Linked DNA regions of Homo sapiens: region 1 is linked to region 2. The links come from fine-mapping of genetic effects on gene expression. Tissue or cell type: whole blood. Region 2 holds a variant in brackets; the other region holds the start of a gene. All regions are shown on one strand. Distances are from middle to middle.

Region 1 (9,134 bases), 55 kb after region 2:
CTGCATTATCATCATAGTTTTTTCACTAACTCTTTTCCCTTGAGCTGTTTTTATGGAATGGACTGAAAAAGGTGGGGAACAGCGCATAGCGTATGATCACATTTTACATAAAAACAACAACAAAAAAAAAGCAGCTACCCATAGACTATTTGTATAACATCCAGAAAAGTATGGAAGGCTATCTACTCAACACAACATAGTGGGTGCCTCTGGAAGAAGGACTATGGGAAAGGGAAGAGTTCCACTCTTCATTCACTGATGGATTTGTTACAATGAGTATAAATTACTTTTTAATAGGAAAAACAAGAAAGATACTCCCAAACCACCCCCAAAAAAGTGGGCAACTTAAGAAAAATTCTGAAGTTCAAGATAAGAACTTACAGGAAGATACTGGACCACAGTTCCATTCTGTTTTCCCACTGCCAGCTGCTTTCCTTTGGGGCTCCAGCACACTGAGCAAAGACAGTATTACCAAATGAAAACAAGAAAATGGAGCAAACCAATAAGATCTATCACACACAGCTAATTATCAATTCTCATTCCTCTGTCAGTCCATGGAAGATTGTAGGATCATCTCTATCAGGCAAAGTGGAAAAAAGTAAAATCATTTTAACGATATAAGCCAATTGATTTATCACTGGGCTATTGAATTGAAAGCTAAAAATGCTTTTTCAATAGATTACTGCCCAGAAAGCTGCAAAATACAGAAAACTCTGTAGTCTTTACATAAGACAAGGAGAACAGAGAAGGTTTCCAAATACCAAGAAATCACTGGCCGGGCACAGTGGCTCATGCCTGTAATCCCAGCACTTTGGGAGGATGAGACGGACGGATCACTTGAGGTCAGAAGTTCAAGACCAGCCTGGCCAACATGGTGAAACCCCGTCTCTACTAAAATATACAAAAATTAGCTGGGCATGGTGGCAGGCACCTGTAATCCCAACTACTCTGGAGTCTGAGGCAAGAGAATTGCTTGAACCCAGCAGGTGGAGGTTGCAGTGAGCTGAGATCGCGCCACTGCACTCCAGCCTGGGCGACAGAGCAAGACTCTGTCTCAAAAAAAAAACAAAAAAAAAAAAACAAAACCAGAAATCATTCTCCTGCTCCCATTTAATATTTAAAATGCTTTTCCGCCCAAAGGTACAAATGACTTTCAGAGTACCACCGTTACAGATCCAGAAACAATTATTCCCAAAAAACACTTCTAAACCAGCTGTACCAAAATATTTCTCCAGAAATCCCAAGTACATTCAGGTTAAATTATGTATGCTGTTTGGCTTCAAGGACATTAACTATGGGTATAAAGAATACTCTCAGCCGGGCACAGTGCCTCACACCTGTAATCCTAGCATATGCGGGGTGGAGGAGGGCAGATCACTTGAGGTCAGGAGTTCAAGACCAGCCTGGCCAACATGGTGAAACCTTGTCTCTACAAAAAATACAAAAATTAGCTGGGCATGGTGGCGCATGTCTATAATCCCAGCTATTTGGGTGGCCGAGGCACGAGAATTGCTTGAACCCAGGAGGTGGAGGTTGCAGTGGCTGAGATGATGCCACTGTACTCCAGCCTGGGCGACACAGTGAGACTGTCTCAAAAAAGAATACCTTCCATCCTTAACCTCCCTCGTCATGAAAAAAAAAACCAAAACACAAAAAGCTATCCACTTTCACTTCTAGAAATCAATTCTTAAGTAGATGACCATGATTGTATGCTACAGTGTGAAAGCCTTTATTACTCACCAGAGGTTACTGCTACCGTGGAAGGAAGAGTTGCACATACTTTCACTGTTTCCGTGACTTGCAGGACAGCAATACTACCATCAGCCAGACAAACTGCCACCATGGAGGGGACAGTGGGGTTCCACTTCATATCAATCACCATGCCTCCTGCATCTTTCAAAAGCTTATGATAGGCAAATGGGCGTTTTTGCTGTTTAGCCTTTTAAAACAAATATGCAAAAGTGAAATAAGTTAACAAATAGTAAATGCAGAAACATTTAATATTCAATGGAAATTACTGAATACACAAGGTATCTCAAATCAGTTTATTTTTCTCCATAACCATAAAAAAAGATTGTTTTATGCATCAATCTATTTGCTATAGACAATTTCAACACAACTTTGAAAATGGCAATCAATTATTCTAACATGCTTAGGGGGACTCTCAGAAGGGGAATGCACAATTGCAAAATAACCAATAAATAGCAGACAATAGATTAAAATCTTGGCTCTGCTTCTTAATAATGTTGGGACCTTGGACAGTTACTTAAACTCTGAGCCTGTTTCTCTACCTATAAAATGAAGATAATAGTACCTACTACATAAGGCTGTGGTAGGCATGAACGAGGGACAAGGCATATAAAGCACTTAGTACAGAGTCTAACACACACAGTCAGTATAAACACTCACTATTATTATCATTCTTAAACTGCTTGGAATGGAAGAACATCCAAAATGTAGGAACTTTTGACATTATGTATTCATCTATGACTTTGGGCAAGTCACCTAAGCCTCCTGATAACAACTTAGGGCAGATGGCGTTATGAAAGAATTTCTTGAAGTCCCTTCTGTCTCAAAGATCTATGATTCTATAATTAAGGATTTTTTTTTAACCCATATTTTAATCTAGAGAGAAACTTCAAGGGTTAACCTATGAAGCTTCCAAGTTGTAATTCAATACAAGGAAATCTGCTTAGGGTTCTCATGTTGACATCACAGTATAACAGTAGCTTACCTCATTTGAGAATGTGCGAACATCAAAAAAAGCAATAATGGAACCATATTCACTGGACATCATGCACGCAGAGAGTGTGAGGTTATCACAGCTCAAGGCCAGGTGATGGATTGGGAATTTCATAGGAACTAGCAAGCCTTGGACTTTATCAACTATGAAAACAAAAAAATACAAAGCAGAAAACGGTATGTTCTAAGCATAAAGCCACAACCTCTATCCAGTTCGATGTGAAAAAATTTTTGCATCTACATAAACACACATACACCCCAATACCTAGTTATACAGATAAATCTTAACTTTCTTAAAGATATATAATGATGGATTAAGTATCCCTGGAATTCTTCCTCATACAATCTGGGGAAACTAACTGTGGCTGCTGCCCTTGTTGAAAATATTTTTGCAACAATGCTCTAAATAGTACACCTTGCCAATAGTTTGGATCATACTGTTGTGCCAACTGAAAACCCATGCCAATAAAACCCTTCACCCAGAGAGCCAGAGCCCAAGTTCAACTGAGCAAAAATAAAAGCATGGCATAATGGTTAAGTTCTTCCCTGTTGAGCTGAGAGGAACAACTCATGTAAGGAGAAATACAAAGGACCAAGGAGAAAACCTAGAAAGGCTTCCATTAATCTTCTTGGGAGTCAACCTTCAAACTGACAGCAGTGTTCATTTTAGTATTAGAATGACTTCTTGGGAAGGAAACACAAGAGCATGCCACCATACTCCTCTCTCTACTTTGCAACATAAACCAGGGAACTTACCTATTTTGTTGGGATCATCTCCGGGTTTATTTTGAATAAGAAGATTTTTAGTAGGAAAAATCTGCAAGCCACTGGCTCCACCAGCGAAGACCAGACCATATTTGTTGGACACAGCAAGCAGACTCGAGCGTTCCTTGGGCAATTCCTCAGGGGAGTCAAAGATTCTCACCTTCTTTAGCGCTCTAAACTGAAAATCCTGTTGTGAAGAATCAAAACGAGATCAATTCAATAAAGAAAGAAATTAAAACATGTTATATTCAGTAGACCCAATTTCAGTACAACAAAAATATGTATTACTGAGACCAAGGTCTGTCTCAATTGTCTTTTTTTCTTTTTTGAGATGGAGTCTCGCTCTGTCGTCCAGGCTGGAGTGCAGTGCAGCGATCTTGGCTCACTGCAACCTCTGCCTCCCAGGTTCAAGCGATTCTCCTGCTTCAGACTCCCAAGTAGCTGGGATTACAGGCACCCGCCACCATGGCCATCTAATTTTTGTATTTTTAGTAGACACAGGGTTTCATTATGTTGGCCAGGCTAGTCTCGAACTCCGGACCTCAAGTGATCCATCCACCTCAGCCTCCCAAAGTGCAAGCTCACAGGCATGAGCCACCACACTCGGCCCTCATTTTTTTCTGATATGGAACACTTCATGAATTTGTCTGTCATCCATGTAAAGGGGCCATAATAGTCTTCTCTGCATGATCCCAATTTTATATGTGCTGCCAAAGGGAGTGCGAGATTACCATCTTCTAAGTCTGTGGTTCTATTAATAAAACCTTTTTTTCTTCTACCCCAGCATATCTGAGGAATATGACACAACCCCATTAGGTGGCTCACCACAGGTGGTGATTCTCAAAAAATAATCACTATTCTAGGACAGCACGGTAGCTCACGCCTATAATCCCAGCACTTTGGGAGCCAGAGGAGGGCGGATCACGTTAGGTCAGGAGTTCGAGACCAGCCTGGCCAACATCGTGAAACCCAGTCTCTACCAAATGATATAAAAAATTAGTGGGGCGTGGTGGCAGGCGCCTGTAATACCAGCTACTAGGGAGGTTGAAGCAGGAGAATCGCTTGAGCCGGGGAGGTGGAGGTTGCAGGGAGCCGAGATCATGCCACTGCACTCCAGCTTGGGTGACAGAGCAAGACTCTGTCTCAAAAAAAAAAAAAAATCACTATTCTAAACATGGTATTACTATGCCCTAAATGCATTTTAGTGATTTATTGTTCACACAGATGCCTAAAATCTTCCTGCAACTTACTTCTTTTCACTATTTAAAACAGATGTAGCCCGTCTGTTGTACCCTCATTCTGTCAGAACCCATATAAGAACTATTAAACACACCATCCTGAAGTTATCCCTGGGGGACTCCCACGTTGCTATCACTGGGACCACTTGGCCCTCCCTTTAGGTTCCTGACTTTAGGCTGATATACCGAGGTCAAAATAGTCTTCCTAGTCCAATCAACTAAAGGTTCTGCAGGATGGATGACCTTCCCTGACTCTACGTTAGGCAAGCCCGTATCACCTTACAGAAGTACTGGGAGAGCAAAGGTCTTAAATGATGCTGGCTTTCAGCCCCGCGTCAAATGTGACTTTAGGGAAATTACTTTCCGAGCCTCAACTTACTCCTCTACGTTAACGACTACTTCGTAGGGCTGCCGCGATGACTACCACAGTGCCTGGCACACAGTCAACACTCAATAAACAGCAGTTATTGCCACTATTGTGACCGCCCCAGGAAGTAGCTAGGGTAACTCAACAGCCGTGCACGAGACCAGGATGGGACTGGGAAACTGCATTCGGTGGGGCTATCACGCCAGCGGCGCGGCAGACGCGCTGGTGAGAGCTGTGAACGCGGTAAACTGTTCAAGCAGGAGGCGGGACAGCCAGCACCGCGCTTCGCCTTTCAGCTGGGCTCCAAGGCAACGCCAGGACTAAAGAAGGGAGGGAGGCCCCGGTTAGTCTCTGACCTTCATCTCCCGCTCGGGAATCATGGCATCCATCTCGTCTCCCATCGCGCCGCCCTCAGTGTGTCGAAGCAGCCAACGCTGCCTCCCACGGCCTTGCCCACGGAACCCAGGCCGCTCGACAGCAAACTTCCTCCCCTCAGCGCCAGCGGCGCGCAGTTGACCTCGCATTTCCGGCGCGCTTTGGTGACGTCAAGCTTGGTCAGAGGAAGCCGCGGAACCTAGCGAAGCCGCGCGTTCTTCCGGCCGCCGCTCCCCATTGGCCAGCTCGGGCTGAGTAGTGGCGTGGCCGTGAGGTCCCTGCGCCTGCGCCCTGGATGGTCCTGGTGCCGCTCCCGCCTTCGCAGCCAGCGCGGGCTTACCTAGTGTTAAGTCTCTCTTCTTGGGTGGCCCACGCCTAAGCGACCTATGCTTCTTGTTCTTCTGAAATCTTACAGTTCCCCTTAGATGTAGGTTGGCTATTGGTAGCTTCCGATTCAGATAAGTTTGGAACTTGACAGATGTTTTCGGGGGGCTGCTTTAGAGAGAGGCTTTGGACTATGCAAGGGGAGGAAGGGAGGTTCAGAAAAACGGGGTCGGGGGGTCGGCAGGGACGACTCTTAAAGTGTGGAAGGTGGAAGGCTGGGAGGGGAGATTAAAGGGCACCGAAGACCAGCTTTGTTTGCTCCTATCAAGGTGATCCTTTCCAGAGCAAGAGCCATATCCATGTCTAGTCGCACGAGTTTGTGCCAAGTCCTTTGCAAAAACCTTCAGATGTGGGATCTCATGTAATCTTGAAGACATCTTAGTCGTCCTAGGGGTTATTTATTTAATTGATGAGACGCGGGTGGCTCATGCCTATAATCCCAGCACTTGGGAGGCGGAGACAGGAGGATTGCTTGAGACCAGGAGTTTGAGACCAGCCTCGGCAACATGGCGAGACCCCGTCTCTATAAAAAACAAAACAAAACCACAAAAATTAGCCAGCAGTGATGGCATGCGTATGTAGTCTCAGCTACTCGGGAGGCTGAGGTGGGAGAATTGCCTGAGCCCAGGAGGTTGAGGCTACAGGGAGCTGTGATTGCACCATTGCACTCCAGCCTGGGTGACAGAGCCAGGCCCTGTCTCAAAAAGTAAATAAAAGGCCGGGCGCGGTGGCTCACGCCTGTAATCCCAGCACTTTGCGAGGCCGAGGCGGGCGGATCACGAGGTCAGGAGATGGAGACCATCCTGGCTAACACGGTGAAACCCCGACTCTACTAAAAATACAAAAAATTAGCCGGGCGCGGTGGCGGGCACCTGTAGTCCCAGCTACTCGGGAGGCTGAGGCAGGAGAATGGCGTGAACCCGGGAGGCGGAGGTTGCAGTGAGCAGAGACAGCGCCACTGCAGTCTGGCCTGGGCGAAAGAGCGAGACTCCGTCTCAAAAAAAAAAAAAAAAAAAAAGTAAATAAAAATAGGCTGGGAGCAGTGGCTCACGCCTGTAACCACAGTACTTTGGGAGGCCGAGGTGGGTGGAACACCTGAGGTCAGGAGCTCGAGACCAGCCTGGCCAACATGGTGAAACCCCGTCTCTGCTAAAAATACAACAATTAGCCGGGTGTGGTGGCGGACGCCTGTGTTCCCAGCTATACAGGAGGCTGAGGCAGGAGAATCGCATGAACACAAAAGGTGGAGGTTGCAGTGAGCTAAGATTGTGCCACTGCACTCCAGCCTGGGTGACAGAGTGAGACTCTGTCTCAGAAAAAAAAAAAAAAAAAAAAAAAAATATATATATATATATATATATACACACACACACACACATATATATATACACACACACACATATATATATATATACACACACACACATACACATACATAATAATAATTGATGAGGTAAGGGAGGCACAGAGAAGTTGAGAAAATTCTCCAATAGCCCTCAGTCAGAAAGTGGTGGTGACAGGATTAGAATTGAGATCGTCTGGATAAGGCTGACTGATGGTATTAAAGTCCTTCATAGAATACATTTCTGTAGTGAATTATAAATGCTCTAGGACAGAGGTTCTTTTTTTTTTTTGAGACGGAGTCTCACTCTGTCACTCATGCTGGAGTGCAGTGGCGCGATCTCGGCTCACTGCAAGCTCTGCCTCCCGGGTTCACAGCATTCTCCTGCCTCAGCTTCCCAAGTAGCTGGGACTACAGGCGGCCGCCACCACGCCCGGCTAATTTTTTGTATTTTTAGTAGAGACGGGGTTTCACCGTGTTAGCCAGGATGGTCTCCATCTCCTGACCTCGTGATCCGCCCACCTCAGCCTCCCAAAGTGCTGGGATTACAGGCGTGAGCCACCGCGCCCGGCCGACAGAGGTTCTTAACTTGGACCTCATGGGTTGGCTCCAGGGGGGTCGGATTGTGCCATTTACTGTTTGGCTTGCAGCACATTGCTTATTCAAGCCTACTTTTCAGTTGTGAAACAAGGATGACATAATAGAACCTGTCTCTTGCAGGGAGGTGGTTAGGATAAGTGAATTTCAGCTGTCTCAGACAAAAGGCACAGGACATGCTCATTTAATCTCTTACTATATTAGCTAGTTCGCAATTTGCTGAGCCCAGAACCAGCCCCAAAATACACCAATCAAGACGTTGGTAAGTTTGTCTGGTTTATTTGCAGGCTGTAGAGATGATATCCCAGTCCACGCACACTCCCATGCACACGCACACACATACTTCATCCACCTGAATTTGCCCGACAAACCCTCCTCTGAGTCATAGGGACAAAGCCATACTTGGCAGTCCTCACGTTACTGGTTACATTAGATTTGGTCTTTCAGAAAGAAGATGGTTGAAGTCCCAAGAAGCTGAGCCCTTAGCCAGAGAAGTAAGAGTCCTAGAACCAAGAGCCACAACCTGAAATAGATGCAGACTGCCCCCGCCCTCCTTCCAGGGACAACTCTTGAGACCCTCTCCTCCCAGGAGTTGAGTCTCAAGAAATGAAGGGACTGATGGGGTTTCCCAGGACACACGAGCCCCCACCCCCATTCAATGAGAAAACCCTCTCTTCTGCCATTTCCAGAAGCTGGGGCCACACCTGCTTGCTCTCCTCCCTTAAGGAGAATTCCTGCAGTCTTGTAGAACTGTGGAACTTACTGAAATAAGCCTGACTGGTTCTGCCTTCCTCTCTGAGTGAGGAACAGGGACACTGAATATGATGGGTAGTGAAGGAAGGCTTTATCTTCCTCAAAGGTCCCAGCCTGTCCCAGAGAGGAGAGGCAGTGAGGAGGGGTGAGGACATCTAATGATCTTGGGGAAAAAAAAAACAAAAAACAGGGCAGGGTGGGGGTAGAAGTAGGATTTTCCATTTACAGGGAGGAATGTTTTGCTGGGGTTTAAACTTCAACTAGGCCTGTGTGCATTTGAAGCAGATCCTTGAGCTCAAGATCAGCCAGTCATGGCCAAATAACCTCATTCCTGAACTGGTTGAAACCAGTGGGTTAACCCAACCTGGCCATTTCCTCATGCCTTACCTGTTTTCCTCCCTCAATCTGCTATCAGAGGTGACTAAGGAGCCGCAGGGAACCCACGTTGGCTCCAACCACCAAGACCTCCCAGTCCTGTCCACTTAAGGTGTTGCAAAGGCTCTGCCAAGACTCTCACCCAGTCTTGGGCCCATCTAGGCCCCCAGGACTGCAGGGAAGTCACCCCATACCT
Region 2 (10,331 bases):
CTTCTGTCCAATATACAATACCAGTTTTGGGTAGGATACAGATGCATGGGACCCCAATACAACTGATTTGACATTTTTTTTGAAGGATAAATTTTAAAAATGAACTTTGGGTTTTTAGCATGAAAGTCAAAGCAGTGGCCTTATAACTTATTTCCTTTCTGCAATCCAAAGAAAAAAATTAGTAACCATTCAGAACTAGATCTTTTTGCTATCCAGAGTATAAGCCCTCCTCCTCCCTGGCCCTTCCCCCTGTTGTAGACCACGAGAAATTCCTGATTCTCTTACCCAAGCAGGCTCTATGGGAAGCATTCTCACTGCCACCTATGCATCCAATTCGCTGCTACCGCAAAGGTGCTATCCAAAGAGATCTTAGCTTCTCACAGCAGCTATCTCCAGGGCTCACCAGGTCAGCATCCAAGGGATTCAAATGTACCACTGTTCCATTCCCAACCTGCATCTTTGCTACAGCATGAAAAGTATACCCCTATTCGCAGAAAGAGCTCTCATCATCTTTTGTTAACTCTGAAGTAGGTGAATACTGTATGTGAGGAACTGTTATTTCAATAACTAGTGTTCACATATGGGAAAACTACCTGTTAGTGTAATCACACACAAAAGTTCTTGGCTCCTAGCGGCAATTTTTTCAATTTATCTGTTGTCAGCCCAGCGCTACTCTGACTGGTATATATAGCAGTAGTAGTTGTAGGACCTGGTTATTTTTCAGAACTCCCCTAGATTTAGGGAGGATTCATATTTTCCATCAAAAATGAACTTAGAAGATAAAAGATAGGCCTGTGCCTCACGGAAGAAAATTATCAAACAGCTTAACAAACCTTACAAGCATATTGAGATTCTCTGCTGGAATAACAAGGGGACCTTCCTAAACAGACTTTATTAGATTGAGAGAGAAGAAAAAGTGAACTTATGTTCAATGAAACAAAACCCGTTTCATGCTTCTACTGAAGCCAGAAGCAGCTATAAATATGCATCTCTCTGGAGAAACACATCTCTGTTCCCCTGAGATAGTTTACCAAGCAGGCAATACAGATACAGTGTTCCCCCGTCACCTCCGCTGAATCTGTACCAGAGGAAAAGAATGTGTGAGTGAGACTGCTGGGCCCTGAGCAGTACCTGGACAGACACAGCAGACTTGCTTAGAGAAGAGGTTGGAGCTCACAAGGATTACAAAGGAAAGGAAACTCTTTCATGCTTTCTCAAAGACAAACAGAAATCAGAAATAAAAATAAAAGCAGCAATTTATCCAAATTTTAGAAAATTTTTTACAGCCAGAATTCAATTGTGACATGATAGTAAATTATGCATGAATAAGACTGAGTGTAATTATTATTCTATTTATTTGTGATAATTCTATGTATCTCCTGAGTATCCTAAATCCCCAAATACACAAAATTAGGATTCACAGTACCTACACACCACGTGACACCCCTGCAAAGAAATGCTGTTCAGTGCAATCAGCCAGTAAACCAATTAACAAACCAGATCCAATAAATCTCTTATCAAGATCCAAGACAGCACACAGAAAAAAACAGTATACTCTCAAACAAATATGTTCAAACGTTTTTGCATGAGCATGAACCAAAACAATGGAAATCAATAGCTAGAAATGATCAAGAGATAGAAAAGCCAAATTCAGAAGTATCCATATCTTAGGTGACTTTATTCCACTTTTTAGCAATATGGAGTTGAAAAATATCAGAAATTCATCTTGATATTTGTTCTAAGAAGAAAATGGTGCTATAACAGAGCCCCAAAGAGACATCTCTTTACTGAGTGAGTCTACAAATGACACTGACATTGCCAGCAACACTAAAGTTCCTGCTTCAGAAATGAGCGACAGAGGCACAGATCACTAAGAGTCTGGAAACTCGGGTTCTTGGAGAAAAATAAAACACAGAAGAGTCATTTTTTTCTGTTTTTGGCCACACATTACCAGCACTACATGCCAACAGAGGCAGACAAATGCACACATGTTCCATGGATGTGTACTCTACACACAATTATAAAATTGGGTTGTGAAGCATTAAAATGTCACCTAGGCCCTTTGCTATTGATCCCTCCAACTTTAATGAACTTCAACAAGGTAAATACTCATCCCATTGTTGTAAAAAGCCTCAACTTCTTGTAACTTATTTCAGGATTTTAAAAAGCATAAAAAACAAGAGACCTGGTTATGTTTTATTTTGGTAAATCTTAATCACTATCACATGTATCTTTTCATACATACTCATATATGAGAGAGTGGAACTTATCAAGAGTAACTGAAGAAACAAAGAAATCAACAGGGAAAAAGAATGAAAATGATAGAAGATACTGAAAACAAACACTCTATATTCAATTCTTGGGCGTTTTTGACATCTGTCGATGGAAATATAACTGCCAACTATTTTCTCCATTGGTAAATTTAATGTCTTCAAAGACACATTCTTTAAAATAGTATCCAAAAGTCTGTTAAAGCAAATTGTATTTCCTGCATGAATGTTTAGATGCTAAGTAACTTAAATAATTAAGACGGAATTGCATTAGAGCTTTGAAAAAATCCACATTAAATATGAAAAAATAGGCCAGGCACGGTGTCTCACGCCTGTAATCCCAGCACTTTGGGAGGCCGAGGTGGGTGTATCACTTGAGGTCAGGAGTTCGAGACCAGCCTGGCCAACATGGTGAAACTCCGTCTCTACTAAAAATACAAAAAAATTAGCCAGGTGTGGTGGCAGGTGCCTGTAGTCCCAGCTACTTGGGAGGCTGAAGCATGAGAATCGCTTGAACCCGGGAGACAGAGGTTGCAGTGAGCCAAGATTGTGCCACTGCACTCCAGCCTGAGTGACAGAGCGAGACTCCATCTCAAAAAAAAAAAAAAAAGAGAGAGGCCGGCTGCAGTGTCTCACGCGTGTAGTCCCAGCATTTGGGAGGCCAAGGTGGGTGGATCATCTGAGGTCAGGAATTTGAAATCAGCCGGGCCAACATGGTTAAACCCCGTCTCTACTAAAAATACAAAAATTAGCCGGCTGTGCTGGTGCACACCTGTAATCCCAGCTACTCAGGAGGCTGAGGCAGGAGAATCGCTTGAACCTGAGAGGCGGAGGTTGGAATGAGCTGAGATTGCGCCACTGCACTCCTGCCTGGGTGACAAAGCGAGACTCCATCTCAAAAAAAAAAAAAAAAAAAAAAGAAAAAGAAAAAAGAAAAAGAAAAGAAAAAATACGAATAGTGTAAGAATTTTTAATGACATGGAAAATGTAAACGATTACATTTCATGATTAAGCTGAAAAGGTTACAAATTTACAAAGCAGCATGCATCCAAATTTTTCTCTAACAAGAAACATTTTCATAAAATAAGGATGAAAAAATGTGTAAATAACAATCATACATTTGTGGTGGGAATAAAGGTGATTTTAAGTTTGTTCTTTTTAACTATCTTTTTTATATCTACAACAAACATTTGTAATTAGAAAAACAAAAGGATTAAAGTTCCTTTTAAGTTTCTGGTCATTACTAGAGTTATTATTTTTAAAGTAGAGGAACATCTTTAAATCAGTGAAAGAAAAAAACTGCCAATCTAGAATTCTTTACCCTGTGAAAATATCTTTCAAAATCAAAGGTGAAATAAAGACTTCTGCAGACATACAAAAGCTAAAAGAATTCAGATATGAACCTCAAGAAACATTAAAGGAAGTCCTTTGAGCAGAAGAAAAATTATACCAGATGGCAAGCTGGGACCAGACACAGGAATGAAGAACCCTGGAAATGGTAACTATATGTATAAACATGTAAACTTTTTTCTTCTTATTTAAATGTATTTAAAAGATAGTCAGCCGGGCGCGGTGGCTCAAGCCTGTAATCCCAGCACTTTGGGAGGCCGAGGCAGGCGGATCACCTGAGGTCAGGAGTTCGAGACCAGCCTGGCCAACATGGCGAAACCCCGTCTCTACCAAAAATATAAAAATTAGCCAGGTGTGATGGTGGGCACCTGTAATCCCAGCTACTAGGGAGGCTGAGGCAGGAAAATCACTTGAACCTGGGAGGCAGAGGTTGCAGTGAGCTGAAATCGCACCACTGCACTCCAGCCTTGGCGACAGAAGAAGAATCCATCTGGGGGGTAGTGGGGAGGAAAGATAGTCAACTGTTTATAACAATGTATCATGAGGTTTACAATACAGTGGAAGTAAAATGCACAATAGCATAAAGGTGGTGAAGGGAGAAAATAGAATACTGCTGTTAGATTCTTACACTATTCTTTAGTAATATAGTATCACTTGAAGACAGTCTGTGATAAGTTGAAGATGTATACTATAAACCCTAATGTAAGCACTTAAATAACACCAAGTTATAGCCAATAAGTCAACAAAAAAGTTAAAATAGAGTCATAGAGACATTTAACCCAAAAAAAGGCAGAAAAACAAAAACTGAACAACAAACAGATGGGATAAATAGAAACAAATAGCTATATAACAGATTTAAACCAAAACATGTCAATAATTACACTTAAGGTAAACGATCTAATCACCCCAATTAAAAGTCACAGATGGTCAAGATTAAAAAAAAGCAAGCTAAGGCCCACTATATACTGTCTACAACTGTGGTCCCCAACCTTTTTGGCACCAGGGACTGGTTTTGTGAAAGACAATTTTTTCCACAGACGGACAGCGGAGGGGGATGGTTTCAGGATGAAACTGTTTCACCTCAGATCATCAGGCTATAATTTTATATTTTATTCAGTTAGATTATCATAAGGAGCATGCAACCTAGATCCTTTGCATGTGCAATTCACAATAGGGTTCATGCTCCTATGAGAATCCAAAGCTGCCGCTGATCTGACAGGAGGTGGAGCTCAGGTGGTAATGCTCACTTGCCTGCCGCTCACCTGCTGTGTGGCCCAGTTCCTAAGAGGCCACAGACCGGTACTGGTCTGCAGCCCAGGGCTGGGGACCCCTAATCTATAAGAAATCCATTTTATTTTTTTAAATTATTTTTGTTTATTGTGGTAAAATACACTTAACAAAATCTGCCATCTTAAAAGTAACCATTTTTAAGTGCACATGTAGTTCAGTGATACTAAGTACATTCACATTGCTGTGCTACAAGAAACCCATTTTAAATATAAAGACAAAATAAGTTGAAATAAAAGGATGGAAAAGATATGTTGTGGTGCTGGGACAACTGGATATCCACATTCAAAACAATGAAGTTGGATCTCTACTTCACACCATTTACAAAAATTAACTCCAAATGGATCAGAGACCTAGATATAAGAGCTAAAACCACATAACTCTTCAAAGAAAACATCGGTGTAAATCTTTATGACCTTGGATTAGGCAATGGTTTCTTACATGTGACACCTAAAGCACAAGCAACAAAAGAAAAAATAGATAAACTGGACTAAATTTT[C/T]GTGTCAAAGGACACAACAAGAAAGTGAAAAACAACTCAAAGAATGGGAGAAAATATTTGCAAATCATATGCTTGATGAGAGACTTGAATACAGATTATATAAAGAAACTTAGAGCTCAAAAATAAAAAGACAACCTAATTTTAAAATGGAGCAAAGGAACTAAATAGATATTTCTCCAAAGATACAACTGGCCAATAAGCACGTGAAAAGATGCTCAATATCACCAGCCATTAGGGAAATGCAAATCAAAACCACTGATAGTGTGAGATACCATTTTATACCACTAGGATGACTATAACCAAAAAGATAGTCAATAATGAGTGTTGGTGAGGATGTGGAGAAGCTGGAACCCCCATACATTGCTGTTGGGAATGAAAAATGGTGCAGCACCTCTGTAAACCAGTTTGAGCTATGTAATCCAGCGATTCCACTCCTACATACATACCCAAAAGAACTGAAAGCAGGGACTCAAACAGACACTGTCCACCAACAGTCTTTCCTGACCTACTCCCCCAGCATTCTTCCTCTTGTTCCCTCTACTCTCGTCACCAGAGGTCCCCCCTGACTCGCTCTTCAACTTGTAGACACGCTCCTGCTACAGGCCCTGTGCTTGGAGCTTTCTTCCGAGATATTAATGAGACCTGCTGTGTGGCCTTTCTCTCTTCATTCAAAGGTCACCTTCCTGAGAAGGCCTTCCCTGGCCACCCTATTTAAAATTATAACCCATGTTCAGACAATACTCTCTAACCTTTCCCCCGCTTTAATTTTCTCCATCACACCATATCACCATCTAATATATTACATATTTTACTTATTTATTTTGATTATTGTTTGTCTCTCCAAACAATCAGTCTGTTAGTTTTTTTGGTCTATTTTGTTAACAACAAAACAGGTAGTTTATCTCCAGCTCCTAAGAATACTGTGTGGCATACAACAAATGCTCATTAAGTATTTGTTGAAAGAATGAATAAATGAATGAATGCACACCAAAATAAGTGTTTGTGTAATTGGCAGTTTCCCGGCTGTCTTCTTGTTTGGTTTGTCTTATTCAACTACCCTATCTCTAGTACCCAGGGCAGTATCATGCTCACAGCAGACGCTGTGTAAGAATCTGCTGAATCAAGCGATGGAGCACTGCAAAGGAATTTGAATAGCTGTGGGTTGGCGCCAGATAAACACTCTTCCAACGAACTGAATGGATGAGGCCAATGAACATAAAGTACACCAATGGCAGAAATATGTAAGCTCATCCTATGATGAATCTTCTGTAGATACCACTGAGAAAAAGCTAACTGCAAAATTAAATACTTAAAATACACTTAGGAAACTACTGTTTAAAAGAATCTGTTCCACGAGAGCTGGCTGAAAATAATTTTAAAAATAAAACATAAAAGAATCTGAAAGCAAGTCATTTTACAATGAACATATTCTCTCGATCTTTCCTGGGGAGGGGTGGCAGTAAACACCAATTTTCACTTTTCAATTTATGTTTGGAGTAGAGTTTACCTATTATTCAATAAATGATTATTGAAAGGAATGCTTCTACATTTCAGGCACCATGCTGGGCATACACATGAAATAATTATACCAGAGTCTAATTCTGTGGAGAATGGAACAGAAAGTTTCTTCAAGATTTCTTAAGTTGTCTGAGATTTTTTGTCAGAAAGAGTAGACTCAAAATTACTCCTTGAACAAACCCTTCATCAAAGATCAGCTCAGATGAACCATTTAGGGAAATGAAGCTTGAGAAAAGGAGAAGTGGAATCTCCAAAAGGTGCTTCTCATACATGGTTAGCACCTAATATATCTCAGAAACACTAGACAATACTTCCTGTACCATATGCTGAGTTTTCCCATCTTATGTAACATTCTGCCTTGCCTTCCCTATGCTGGGAATCTGGCTACAATTCCCAAACTCTAATGCATAGTTCTTTCCCTTGAAAAGCTTGCAACAACCACAAATACCATCTTGGTCTAAACAGCATACCAAGGCTCCGAGGTCACTACAAAATAGTAATAGAGAAGGCTTGTTTTTTGGCTGTTAGTATGGCCCTGAGATAACTAAAAATTCCTCAAACAAGCAGTGTTGATAAACAGAACAACATGGAAAAAAAGAGGCCAGCGGACCAGTGAGGCAGGGCCACTTGAGAGAGGGAAAACAGAACCGTGGGCAGATCTGCTCTGTGCAATGGCAGAGGGTGGGCACGCTGTGGAGAACCACAAGGTCTATGGCTGCCCTTCTTGCTGCTAGACTAATCATGGGTACCAGACACTAACTCCCTGAAATCTGATACTAGTCCTCAAGATCCCCATGTTCCAAGTGAGGAAATGTCCCTCAACTCTTCCCTTTGCCACAGGGGATGGTGGTTGGTCTAAAGGGATCACAGTCACAAAATATGCAGGGCAAAGCAGGGCACAGGCATGTTCTGCGAACCTGCCCAGGGCAGCGGGAGGGAGTCAGCACCCTGAATTCCGAACACAGATGAGGACTAAAGACAAATGAGCTAGGCTGGGCACAGTGGCTCCTGCCTATAATCACAGCACTTTGTGAGGATGAGGTGAGAGGATCACTTGAGCCCAGAAATTTGAGACCAGCCTGGGGTGACATGGCAAAAACTCCATCTCTACAAAAAATTAAAAAATTAGCTGGGTGTGGTGTCATGTGCCTGTAGTCCCAGCAGCTACTTGGGAGGCAGATATGGGAGCATGGCTTGGGCCCAGAAGGTTAAGGCTACAGTGTGCCATGATCGTACTGCACTCTGCACTCCAGTCTGGGCAAGAGTGAGACCTTGTCTAAGAAAAAACAAAAAACAAAAAACAACAACAACAACAACAACAAAACCACCACCACCACCAAAAAAACAAGTGAGCTCCACCAGCAACAATCCAGCCCTCAAACATGGCATGGCAGAGAAGCTAAAGTCTCCAAACAGAGGTGCTGTCTTTTATACAAAAGCAAAAGAAATGGGAAGAACAGAAATGCCTGGAGAAGGGAAGTGAGGGAGGAGAGTGTCACCCTTGAGATTACAGTTTCCAGAATCAAGTCTGCATGAGACCCAAAGCATCAACTCTGGAACCCCTAGGGCATTAAAAAAAAAAAAAAAATCAACCTGCACACCTAATGTGTACCACACAGAGACTTACACATGGCAAACAGAAACTGAGCATACAGCATCAAGACAAACTTTAAAAGTTTGTGAGGCAACTGTCACCGGCCAGTTAAAAAGGACAGTCTCCTGAAAATGCATTGTGTAGGCAGGCTTAGCCGCCACCCCCCTTATAACCTAAGGCGGTGCAGGAAAACCAGACTGTGACAGTGGCACTGCTGCTCCCTGCAGGCAGTCCACCGCTACTACAGAAGCAGCCAGGGGCTGAAACACACTGCAGTCAGAACATACCCCATGGCTGTAGAAGGGGTTGCAGGGTTATTCTTCAATTCCTGCACATTTACCACTTGAGGGACATTCTTCAACGTTGATTCAGTCAAAGTGTTTACAGCTAATTTAAACAGAGAAGAGAGAACACCATATTAATTCCAGCAAAGGATAAAAAGTTCTAGCCACATATAAATGAAAAACCAAGACATGAGCCCAAGCAGATTAGAGCCTTATCATGTGAAGGAAATCTACTCTAGGTAGTTCTTGCAGCATTGTGTTCAAAGGAACACCTGGCCTACTCCATTAACACAGGTGATGGAACAAGGCTTCCTGTAACTGAATCGAATGTACTAGAGTAGGGGAAAAGAATTCTCTGGCCAGCTTTTCTACACAGAGCTGAGACACCTGCCACACTGCTGGTCTGTCCTGGAAAAGGGCAGCTTGAGCTAGAGGATTAACAGCATCTAGACTCAGGATTTCTGCCACTCATTCACTGTCTTTCTTTAACATGGGCTTATTATGTGCCAGGCTCTGTGTTAGGGGCTGCGAATACAAAATGTATCTATAGTTTCTTCTCTAAAGAAACTCATGGCCTAGTGAGACAGAAAGGCATAATGAATAAAATGTGGAAAATGGAGCTTGGACAATAATGGGAGAAGAGACTAAGAGGCATATATCTGACACCTCCTCATCAGCTTTCGTCTTATAATTGTAAATTGTATCCCAAAAGACTTAATGACATTCTATAATTAGCAATTAAGGAAGCCTGAGCAAAGCTTGTGGCTCATTACTAACTGCATCACTGGCCAAGGTGAAAGTGGTTATCACAAGCAGAATGACAGACCTGTAGTTAATTCTCTTTTATTCCCTCTTTCAAAGAAGTGACCAGAACATCTTGCCCACGACTGCACATCTTTCATATTTCATATTCAAAGGTGCCTATACCTTAGAAATTTTTGCATCCAACATGATAATACAGATCACACCACCTTCTGCTGAGTGGAACAATCCTCAATCCTAATAGATTTTAACGTTTTACAGATCATTGACTTGATCAACTTGATTTCAGGCCTGTTCAGCACAATGGCAAGATTCTACCTGGTCCAAGTAATATTTAAAGAGATCAAAGAATTCTATTTTTAGAAAGCCCAAAGGTACCTCAAAAGTTATCTTTGTTTTGTTCTTCAATATATATGTTAGATGTCTTAATAAAGGTTTTAATATTTGAATTTTTCTTTACAATCTTTTGACTTATCACTGTTTAATGTTAGTTCTTTTTTCCTAAATCAAACTATTATGTCTTTTTAGTCTTTAAAAAAAACTCTAAATTGATAAGTGTTGTAAGCAGTGATACATCTAAAAAATAATTTTACTCAGCTAAAATGAAAATATTTGGCTTATATCTGTTTCTTGACCCTGGCACTACTGACATTTTGGGGCTAGATAACCCTTTGTTGTGGGGGTGTCTTATGCATTTTAAAGATTTTTTTTTTGCAGCATTCCTGGCCTCTACCCACTAAATGCCAGCAACACTGCCAACTGTTTCA

The links. PIP is the estimated chance that this variant, and not a neighbour inherited with it, causes the effect.
Region 1: NUP214 starts here. The variant in region 2 is fine-mapped to the expression of NUP214 in whole blood (INTERVAL, PIP above 0.99).

Annotation. Positions count from the first base shown.
Region 1 is chr9:131,122,084-131,131,217 of GRCh38, reverse strand. NUP214 (nucleoporin 214) reads right to left here and starts at 5,632. Exons shown (of 36, transcript NM_005085.4): 1 at 5,469-5,632; 2 at 3,499-3,694; 3 at 2,735-2,886; 4 at 1,741-1,939; 5 at 382-452. The coding sequence starts at 5,513. AIF1L (allograft inflammatory factor 1 like) reads right to left here. Exons shown (of 6, transcript NM_031426.4): 6 at 8,074-9,134. It also overlaps the pseudogene RNU6-881P. RefSeq lists an enhancer at 5,434-5,733.
Region 2 is chr9:131,176,885-131,187,215 of GRCh38, reverse strand. NUP214 (nucleoporin 214) reads right to left here. Exons shown (of 36, transcript NM_005085.4): 24 at 8,806-8,905. Among named protein-coding and RNA genes, the nearest start is that of NUP214, 56 kb to the right of the region's middle. The variant C/T (reference allele first, on the strand shown) is at 5,407.